2 separate regions of the Homo sapiens genome follow, and region 1 is linked to region 2. Evidence: fine-mapped expression QTL. A gene starts in region 2. The other region holds a variant in brackets. All regions are shown on one strand. Distances are from middle to middle. Region 1 has its middle 5.2 kb from the start of MS4A4A. Region 2 holds the start of MS4A6A (membrane spanning 4-domains A6A).

The links. PIP is the estimated chance that this variant, and not a neighbour inherited with it, causes the effect.
Region 1: its variant is fine-mapped to the expression of MS4A6A in whole blood (TOPMed, PIP above 0.99).

What each region holds. Positions count from the first base shown.
Region 1 is chr11:60,272,740-60,278,127 of GRCh38, forward strand. No RefSeq gene overlaps it. Among named protein-coding and RNA genes, the nearest start is that of MS4A4A, 5.2 kb to the right of the region's middle. The variant A/G (reference allele first, on the strand shown) is at 2,761.
Region 2 is chr11:60,180,153-60,185,540 of GRCh38, forward strand. MS4A6A (membrane spanning 4-domains A6A) reads right to left here and starts at 2,931. Exons shown (of 6, transcript NM_022349.4): 1 at 2,826-2,931; 2 at 1,429-1,589. The coding sequence starts at 1,575. RefSeq lists an enhancer at 5,158-5,317.

The sequences.
Region 1 (5,388 bases), 93 kb after region 2:
TCCATCCCTTTACTTTAAGTTGATGGGTGTCATTTCTTGTGAAATGGATCTTCTGTGGACAACATATAGTTGGGTCTTGCCTCTTTATCCAATTTGCCACTTTGTGCCTTTTAATTGGTGCATTTATCCCATTCATATTCAAGGTTAATATTGATATGTGCAGGTTTGATCTTGACATCATGTTGTCAGTTGGTTATTATGCAGACTTGAATTTTTGTCCCGAAATTTGGACAGGAAGGCCCAAACAGAGCTTCCCAGCTTACCAGGAGCAGAAGCACAATAGGAACACATCAATTATAACCGATGAACTGCTGGATGTTCAATGTGGACTAACTTGGGAGCTGAAACTCCATGAGGCCCAGTCCTGGGGAGAGGTCAAACACTTGCATGGCTTTTACCTCAAAGTGTCCTAGCAGGTATTTAGTGTAAAGAACAGAGAAAAATCTTGTGCTTCTGATTAAGGAAGGTAATATAACCATTTTTTAAATACTCCAGGGCATTCTGTTGTCTTTAACAAAAAAAGTCTTCCCTCAAGGGAAACTATTTTTTCAGATTCTGATTGATTCTGATTGATTTGGATAATACCAAAACCTAACCAGTCTTGGAAAAGGTCAATACACAACTCCACCTTCCTCTATCCTTCCACGTGGGGAAACTGAATATTCAGCTACATCTCTCTCTCGTATCCTGCCTGACTTAAGTTCAGGTAGGGGCTAAGAAGCATTTGTGAAGTTGATAACTGAGAAGCACAAGTTGCTAAAAGGCTGAGACCTAATTATGATACTAGAGGATGTTTCCCCTCACTCTACACTACCATCAGATGAATCAGGATCCTGTATGATAACAGGAGATTATAGTGAATGAACTGTAAACCTCAGACCCTATTTAAGAAGTGGTGTCTAGGGAGATCCAATAATAATAGGGGAGACCAAAACAAGGACATTACAGGACATTTCAGCCTTTGACCCAAATAGCTACAACAAACAATAAATGCAGCCTAACTTCTAGCCAGATAAACATAATACCTTACATAAAAGGCCTATTTACTTTACTTCCTTTTATGTCCAGCTATCAAAAAAAAAATTACAATGTATGTTAAAAGGTAAAAGACAAAGTGTGAAGAAACAAAGCAAGCAACAGAACAAGATTCAAATGCGGCAGAGATTTTGGAATTATCGGATCAGAAATGTAAAATAACTATGATTAATATTATAAGGACTTTAACAGGAAAAGCATACAACATACATGAATAAACAGATATGATAAGCAGAGAGAAGAAATTTCTAGGAAAGAATGAAAAGGTAATGCTAGAAATGTAAAATACAGTAATAAAAATTTTAAAAATGTTTTTGATAATTTCATCAGTATACTAGGCATGTCAGAGGAAAGAGTCAGTGAGCTTGAAGATACGTCAATAAAAACTTCCGAAACTGAAGAGCAAAGGGAAAAAAAATGGAAAAAAAAAGAACAGAACAACCCCAAAGTGCAGGACAACTACAAAAAGAATAACATTACACATAATGGAAATACCATAAAAAGAAACAAGAAAGAAAGGAAGAGAAGAAATATTTGAAGTTTAAATAATGACTGAGATTTTTCCAAAATTAGTAACAGATGCCAAATCACAAATCCAGGAAGCTCAGAAAATACCATGCATAGTAAAGAGTAAAACATCTATACATAGGTATATAATATTCAAAAACAGAAAATCAAAGACAGAGAAAATTTTGAAAGAAGCAATAAAGGAGAAAAGGAAACTTAACTAGAGAGGAACAAGGATAAGTATTACATTAGTCTTCTTTTCAGAAACTATGCAAACAAGAAGGGGGTGAAATGAAGTATTTAAAATGTTGGAGGTTAAAGGTTCAGGCACCAGTCACACTTCCTTGTTACAGTAGACACTGGTTGAGATGTTAGGTCTTTCAGCCCTGGAGTTCTGCCTATGTGTGTTGCTATGTTGTACACAGGTCAACTCAAACTCTTCCATTTTAAGAGTGCCAGCATGTTCCATAGAGCTCAGTATATCTCAAGGCCTGGGATTTGTGAATTAATATCCTCATATTGGAAGAAAAATACTCATGAAATGTGGTGGTGATGAGATACACATGGTAGGCAGTATTTATGGCAAGGGTGGTGCTTAAAAAAGCTGGTTCATATTGGCAATGAGATAATCAGATGGGAAGAACGAACCAGGTGTAGAATCACTGGAGATCAGGCCGGCTGGTCCTTAGAACGTACCTATTCTAACTCTGAGGATGAAGAAACAAATATTACTCTACATCGCATTGAGTTTAGTTTCTGAGTTGAGATTAAAACTTGGATCATCTCACTCCCAGCGATGTACCTTACTGTCTTCAGCCACTTTCTTTCTCAGACATTCTTCACAGTAAATATTTCTTGCACATGTGAGGAGACTTCATGTATTCTCTGTGTCCTGGTTTTCCCTTAGTATCATTGATCATCCGTGCTCCCTCTTAGCTCTTAATCTTATGGTTTTAATACTTTTTTCCTAGAAACCATAACAAGAGCCATAATCTTGTTGAATCAAAGTCCGTTGGCCTATCAAAATGTTTATAACATAGTTTTAATTCATCCACTGTTTCATTAAAGCAAATTATAATGAGTGACTGCTGGAGAATAGTATTTGCTTGGATTTCTGAATATAGTACAGGTAGCCTGGAATAGCTAAGGAATCTGTGTTCATAATTCAAAGGAGAGACTGTAAAAAATATATCAAAACACTAAAGCTGGTTTTGAATA[A/G]CTACTGGCATTTTTTTAGCTTTTTGTGGAATTTATTTTAACTGCCTCAAATTCACAAGATAAAATCCGGTGTATTAGAAACATGACTTTAGGACACTTGATGAAATGAAAATGTTGGGAAATTACTTGCCAGAGATAGTTGGTGATTATTATCCTCTGTGAAACTCAATGTTCAAGGGAAGTGAGATTAGACATCTCTATAATTGTGGGCCTTTAGAAGGCATGTGATGAAATAAAAAAAAGAAAGCTTTTGTTTCCTTTGATAACTTATATATTTGTTCAATTTGACTGACTTGATTGGCTGTAAGTCATTTTCTAAGAGTTTCAGATTAAAACTTAATTTCATTAGTTGGCAAAAATGGTTGCAGAGCAGTAAATTGGTCAGAGCTAAGAGATCTTGTAATGATAAAGAAGAGAAGAATGTGATTTGTATACACTACTTTGGTGTCAGCATAGACGAGTTGGGCTATTGTCATTAAACAGACCCTGTCCTTAGGGGACACTGGCATTTATTTTGCATATTAATATACATAGGCACCAGTATCTGAGGTTAAGTGTTAAGAATTTTAAGAGTGTTTTCTTAAGAATAATACCTTTCTTTGCTACATATGTACTATTTGAAGAACCATTTCTTAAGCACAAAGGAAACCCATATGGGAAAAAAAAACATTTTGTGCTTTTAATTTAGAATTATATAGGCACTGGAAAAATATTTTTATTAAAAGGATACAAAATAATATTTTTTCTAGATTCAAAATGAGGAATTACAGTGCTTAGATCTATCACCTCAACTTTACATGACTCCTACTTCCTAATATATTTGTTTTCACATTTTCCCTCTGTTCTAATCTTTTATTCCAGATATCTCTAAGGCTTTTACCAATCTCTTTAGCTGAGATTGTAATATAATTTTCTCTGATACTGTATCTCAGTTCACTGCTGACTGATGTGCCACCTACATCCATTCTCTGCATTGTTTCTATTTTACCCACCCAATAGCATTCAACAGAAATGTTCCTACCTGGTGTCAGACATTGAGAAATGTTGAAATCAAAAAGATAAATAAGATACATTATCTGTCCTCAGAGATACAATGAACTGGTAAGAAAAACACTTATAAAAATATAATTTTCAAATAATGGCTAATCTTGGTGGATTAAACACATCTATTTCCTCATGAAACCCAACTAAATGACTATAAAGGGTCTGGGAGAAAGTCATAAATCCAAAAATTCAAAAATAATATGAGAGAAATTGGATCATTTTTTTAAATGTTAGAAACCAGCTAGACAAGCAATAAATGACTTAGCAGCCTCCGGAAAGTGAAAACCTGACTGACGGAATTGGAAGCTTAGAAAAAATTTGATTCTCTTTGTAGAACCCCAGTAAGTCTCAAGAATTATAAGTGCTTTCAGTTGAATATGTCTGGGGACACAGCTAATTGTCTGAGAAGGTAGTTGTATTAGTATGTTCTCACATTGCTAAAAAAGACATAACCAAGACTGGGTAATTTACAAAGAAAAAGAGGTTTAATGGACTCACAGTTCCACATGGTTGGGGAGGCCTCAGAATCATGGTGGAAGGCAAAATGCACATCTTACATGGCGGCAGACAAGAGAGATTGAGAGCCAAGCAAAAGGGAAAACCACTTATAAAATCATCAGATCTGGTGAGACTTATTCATTACCACGAGAAAAGTATGGGGGAACACGCCCCCATGATTCAATTATCTCCCAGTGGTTCCCTCCCACAACATGTGGGAATGATGGTAGCTACAATTCAAGATGAAATTTGGTGGGGACACTGCCAAACCATATCAATAGTGAATACTTAAGTAAGTGAATTCCCTGAGAATAGTGAATTAAGATCCCTGAAGGCCTAGAGTATAACCAGTCCTAACTGGAATAGGAGAATATAAGGCGCCAGGAAGGGAGAGTGTATACAGAAAAATACTAATGAAACAGATCAATTACCTGTGGGTCTATAGACACTGAGATTTACATTTATGGTGGAGTATTTAAAACAACTTATTTTCAGGTATGTAGAAAACAGCATATGAAACATGAGGCAGTTACTAACTTCAGAGAGAAAAATGGTCAAAAGGAAGCGTAATCATAACACTCATAATGAATTAGCCATTAATGATTTAAATACTATAAATTGAGTTAACTAAAAAATCGTGATAAAACTATATGGGAGAATGAGGGAAAAGGAAGTGTTATGGTGGGAAGGTGTGTCCAGGGTAAAAATGAAGGATATAGGGGTTAGTCTATTGTCTTCAGTAGTAGGAGGTTAGTGCATAATATATAAAACCAAAAATTAGAACAGTATTTAAAATCATTCACTTAGAAATATGGAGTCAACACAAAAAGAAACAATTAAAATTTAAATACTTGCTTCTGGAGAAAGAAAATTGATTGGGAACTGGGGAAGGGGGCACTAATGATTTCTTTCAGGCTAAATCCAGTGAACATTTTACTGTTGTTAGCTTGTCTCTCTGAAGTATTTAATAATAATTGAATGATTTCTTCCTACTGAAATATTTCTGTGCTCAAAAAATGATAAGTAATTTATTTATATTACCTAATATAACCCTTTCAACAACGCTATGACATATTACTATCTATA
Region 2 (5,388 bases):
AAGCCACAGTCTCAGGTGTCTGGCAGGTGCTCAGGAAGGCTTCTGCATTTCTGCCTCTCAGGCCCTGGTCTGCTCATGAGACTTGCTTCCAGCTCACAGCAAGTGCTGAGATTTACTTTCCCAGCTCTCAGGACCTCTAAGTCCATGACTAGTTAACTCTCTTTCTATCTCTCTGAAAACAGGGGACATCTGAAAGCCCCCACATTCTCTGCAGTATTGGCAGTGCAGAAGGCCCTCCCCTCATCTCCCAGACTCCACTGGACATGGAGTTTGCCCCTTTGGTCACTTCCTCGGAAACTGCAGTTCACAACCCTATAGCTGAAGCTCTGGAAGCTCTTTTATTTTTAGCTTTTATTTTAAGTTCAAGGGTACAACTGCATGTCTGTTACATAGATAAACTTGTGTCATGGGGGTTTGCTGTACAGATTATTTCATCACCCAGGTATTAAGCCTAGTATCCATTAGTTATTTTTCCTGATCCTCTCTCTCCTCCCACCCTCCACCCTCTGAAAGGCCTCAGTGTGCATTGTTCTGTTCTACGTGTCCATGTGTTCTCATCATTTAGAGGCCATCCCCCTTAGCAGACTAACACAGGGACAGAAACCAAATACTGCATGTTCTCATGTATAACTGAAGCTCTGTCTTAGGAGGTAGTTTTCCTTCCTGACATCCACCTCAGAGATTCACAGCTCTATTATCATTTACCAAAAAGTTTTCTAGACCTTATGTCACATGAGCCTCATAGAAACCCATGTGATTGTACATGAGGCAAGGAAACCAGTCCCACCAGGTCCTGAAATCCAGTCAAACAGAGTGCCTCACCTCAGATCACATAAGTGCAGAGGCAATTCTAGAAACCAAAACTCTGTGTTTCCCTCCCAATCCAAGATAGATCCCTTCTTTCTCTCCTCCCTTCATGCAATACAGCTTCTTTAATAAATTCTGGGTGAGAGGAGAAACAGACAAACAAAAGGTGAATATCATTTCCATTCTCAAAAACGTTAGGAGAAAAGAGGAAAAGGAGTTGTATATTTCCTCTAATTTGCAGTGAGGGAAAAATTATTTGCAAAAAGTCAGTTTGGATTATTAAGCATGCAGTTGTGGAATATATACACATACACACAATATGTCATTATTTACCACCATTACTTTTGTAAAAGAAAATATAGAAAAGCACTGTATTGTAAAAATACAAAGACAACAATAGAAAATCAATTCCTCATATTCAGAATAAGGGAAAATATATTTTTAAGACAACCTCTTGTGGAAAAGTTCTGGGACAGTTTTCTCCAAGTGGCTTCTACCCTAAAGTCCCTCTAGCAAAATTTTAGGGTCTCCACACTCACGACAGATGTCCAGTCCCAAGACATATATCATCTCTTGGCACTTCCCCCAACCCCTCTCCAACACGTTCTGAATTAGATTTACCCCAATAACTTTGATTTCTGCGTGTAGATGTTTCTTCAGGCTATCCTGCCCCTGGTTGGTGGGTTCGGGTTTCTCTGCTTGGGAGAAGTTGATGACATTTGATGGGAGCACTATGATGGTCTCATTGGGAACAGGTTGTGATGTCATGATGGTGTTGCCAACTATGTAAGAAAAAATAGATTTAGCTCTTAAAAAGTACAGAGCTCCCAGGTTCTGACTCCAAAAACAGTAACTCAGTCTTTGCCAATTAGTCTAGGCTTGGCCTGTCCATTAGAGAAAGAAACTGATAGTATGGAACAGTGAAAACCACACAATCTTGGTTTCATGAGGATTTTTCCATAATGTTTGACACAGTCCATTATAGATAATAAACACATCACAGGGTGGCAGCAACATGAATCTTGAGAGGTCTCAATGTCCAGAGGCAAATGGTCACACAAAATTTGCAATATGCAACAACCTCCCTTTCCTCTAGTCCTACTGACAACAACTGTATTGCCATATATTTGATGAATTTTCAGACTAATAAATGAACTCTGCTTACTTATTTCTTGTTTAATAATACTATTTATTAGCACTCAGATATGTTTATCATATTTTACCAGACACATTCTTAATTTTTACCCTGCAGTGCTTTTAATCCTTACAACAGCTCTGCATGTTAGTAAGTTAGTAAAAACATGTAATAAATAAGAAAATGCAAAATAAAGTTTAAGTTATGAATGCAAATAATATACCTATTGCATATATGTGTGGCCCAGAGTTAATGCTGAAGAAATATTTGCAGTTACCCTTATTGTTCACCCTGGTTCACACAGCCGGGAAGCTGTAAAACCAGTCTTGGATCTCAGCTTTCCTGGAGTCTGAAGCCTTTGCATAAATCTCTAGATCATTCTACCTCTTCCTAATTTCCCACCTGGCATTGCCAGCCTGTGTCTGAGTTTACTCAGGCTGGAGAAACAGCTGCATGCAGTGGTATGAGAACAAGTCTTGGACTCATAACACATAGGCTCGCGTCGTTGGTCCTCCCCACTTTTTAGCATAAAGACCAAGTAGGTTGTGGTATTTGTTGCTAAGCTCAGCTTGGATCCCTTTTCACGGCACCATTCTCAAAGCACAGACCGCCCAGTTTACAAATGGTCTAAACACATTTGAAGAGACAAGAGCTCTGCTCCCATTAATTACACAACCTTAGGTAAGTGACTCACTGAGTTTATGCAATTAGAATACAGCGGACACAGAGTTAAAAACAGATACTCCTTCCATTTGCCCACTCTATTTCCAAAAGGCCCTAGTGTCTCTTAACTGCTGTCAAGGAGTTTCAAGTTAAATTACTCCTCTAATGAGGTCACGGCAAGGGAATAGTGAGATGAGAAAAGTCTTCCAGCATTACCTACCTGTGCCCGTTGGTTCCAGCTGAGTCCTCAGAAGCTCCAAAGAGGTTTTAACTCTGGTTTCTCAGTCCCATCAACGGTTTCTACTTACCTTCATCTTCTGAAAGTCATCAGCCCTTCCTTATTCCAGTGTTTACAGCTATACAGGATGTGATACTCACAGATTGTAGATTTGTGAAATGTTCCTGCACTTCCTTTTCTGTAAACTTCTAGCAACTTCAGTAAAACCATGAAAAGAGCCAACTAATATTTGTGAGAGTTCAGGAGTCATGGAGCCTTATGTGTGAATTGCCACTTCGAGACATACAAGTTTCCTGTTGTTAGGCAAGTCTGTTCTTGAAGCTTCAGTTTTCTAATCTGTTAAATAGAGGAGCAATACCAACACTGGAGAATTGTCATAAAGATGAGCAAAAATATTTATAAAAAGCCTATGCTGCTTTGAAGCTTTCAATAACATGTAACTAATAACAGTAATAGTGCTAGTAATCATAATATAGAGAAAGAACAATATTCCACTGTCTATAACTAACCATAATAATAATAATAGCAATAATGACTACACTGCTTTAAAGGAACATTCATTAATATATAGCTAATAGTAATATAGAACATAAAAAAACTTTTAAAAAATTGTTTTTTATATATATAGTTTGTTTGTTTGTTTTGTTTTATCTTGCTTTTCTAATTCCCCAAGTCTTGGCAGGCTGAAAGCAACCTTTCAATACTGATTGCCCAACTGCTGCCTACCCTCAAGTCATCTTCCTCCTCTGGCTGCTCTTTTTCTCTAACAACAGATCTTTGCCCTCCAGAAAGGTTGGGCCCCTCCAGGGAAGCATTGAAATATTGAAACAGAGAAGGAACAAATGGGAAAGATTCAGCAGGACCTAAATGAATTCAGTAAACTCATATGCAGGCTGGTTTTGTGAGGACAGAGGCACTGTGCCCCTTCAAAACCTTGGGTGGCATTCTTTGGAAGCTGACTTCAATGTATCAGGCAAGGAAACCAGAGCCAGTCAGGGCAATGGCAAAGCCCCACCCTGCAAGCTTCCTTCCTCCTTTCCTTGGGGGAGCTTCCAGAATGAACCCAGAAACACAACCTGAACCATCACCGTCACCACAGAGGGCCATGGATTCTGCACTTAATTCCACACATTAACTCTCCTGTTGAAGAAAGGAGTTAAGAAGCACCATTTAGAAGGCTGGATTAGTTCTCAGCGTCTGAATGACACAGACATTATGAAATGTAATTGGCTTGTCTTAAGTTCTAACAATAAATCTGAGAGGAGGAATGGACTCACACAGAAAGCCTGGGGAGAGGGGCAGAATCACCTCCAACCTTGCTCACCCAAGCTCCTGGCGCCCCTTCCTCTTTCGCAGAGTGCCGTCTGTGTTTCCAGTGGGTGCCCTGCATCTTTGTCACCCTCACAGCATCTGTGAAACAGTGGAATGCAGCTCTCCTCCTGAGCTTTGATTAAAAAGGAGCCCAGTCTCTTTGGTCTCTTCAGGAGCAATCACACCCCCTTTCCCTTCAGGGGAATGTGCTAATAAACCAGTTAAAGTTGCCTACCTAAGCAAAGGCTCCCTCTCCAGTCAGTTTTCCTCTCTGTGCTATTTAATTTAAAATCATTTCTGAGTTTTAAGGATTATGTGAGACAACACGTGTAAGGTTCCTAGCACAGAACCCTTCGGAATGATGGCCTAAAAGCGGTCTGTTGACTGTCTTCCTCACCCCCCAATCCTCCCCCCTCTTTTTTTTTCCATTTTGGCTTTAGTAAGCTTAAAACAATTCTCCTTTCTCTTGTCTTTCAGCTTACACTCATTCAGCCTTTTACATTCCCAGTTTTTTCCAGAGTCTGAATTCTACCAACCTAACTACAAGGGAGAAGACTGGTATATCAATAACACGTTCTGATTAATGATCTGGGACAGGTTTCTCAAAAAAGCTACTAATGCCACTTTGGACTGGGTAATTCTTTACAGTAGGTGGCTATCCTGTGCACTGTAGGATGCTTAGCAGACTCCCTGGCCTATGCCAGCACAATCCCACCCTATGTGTAACAACCAGAAACAGTATCTGATATTGTCAAATGTCTCCTGATGGAGGGAGAACAAAATCCCCTCACATTCATGTTGAGAGCTACTGACCTAGGAGCAAAAGGGTTTTTGTGTGTTCTGTGTAAAGGCAGGTGTGCTAGAAACAGAACAATATTTTCTTTAAATCAATTTCTCAACTTTTATTTTTAAAATTTTAAATTGTGGTACAAAACACATATAATTCATTATTTTAACCACTTTTTAGTGTACAGACCACTAGTATTAATTTTGTTCACATTGTTGTGTAACAGACCTCTAGAACTTTTTCATCTTGCAGAACTGAAACTCTATACCCATTGAACAACCACCCCTTTCCTTCCTATTCCTAGCCCCTAGTAACCACCATCCTACTTTCTGTTCCATGTTTGCTCTGTCTCTAAGGGAGGAGACCACCCCTCATATTGTCTTATGCACAGTTTCTGCCCCCAAAGAAAGAAGAAGTAAAAACTAAAAGGCAGAAATGAAATCTACA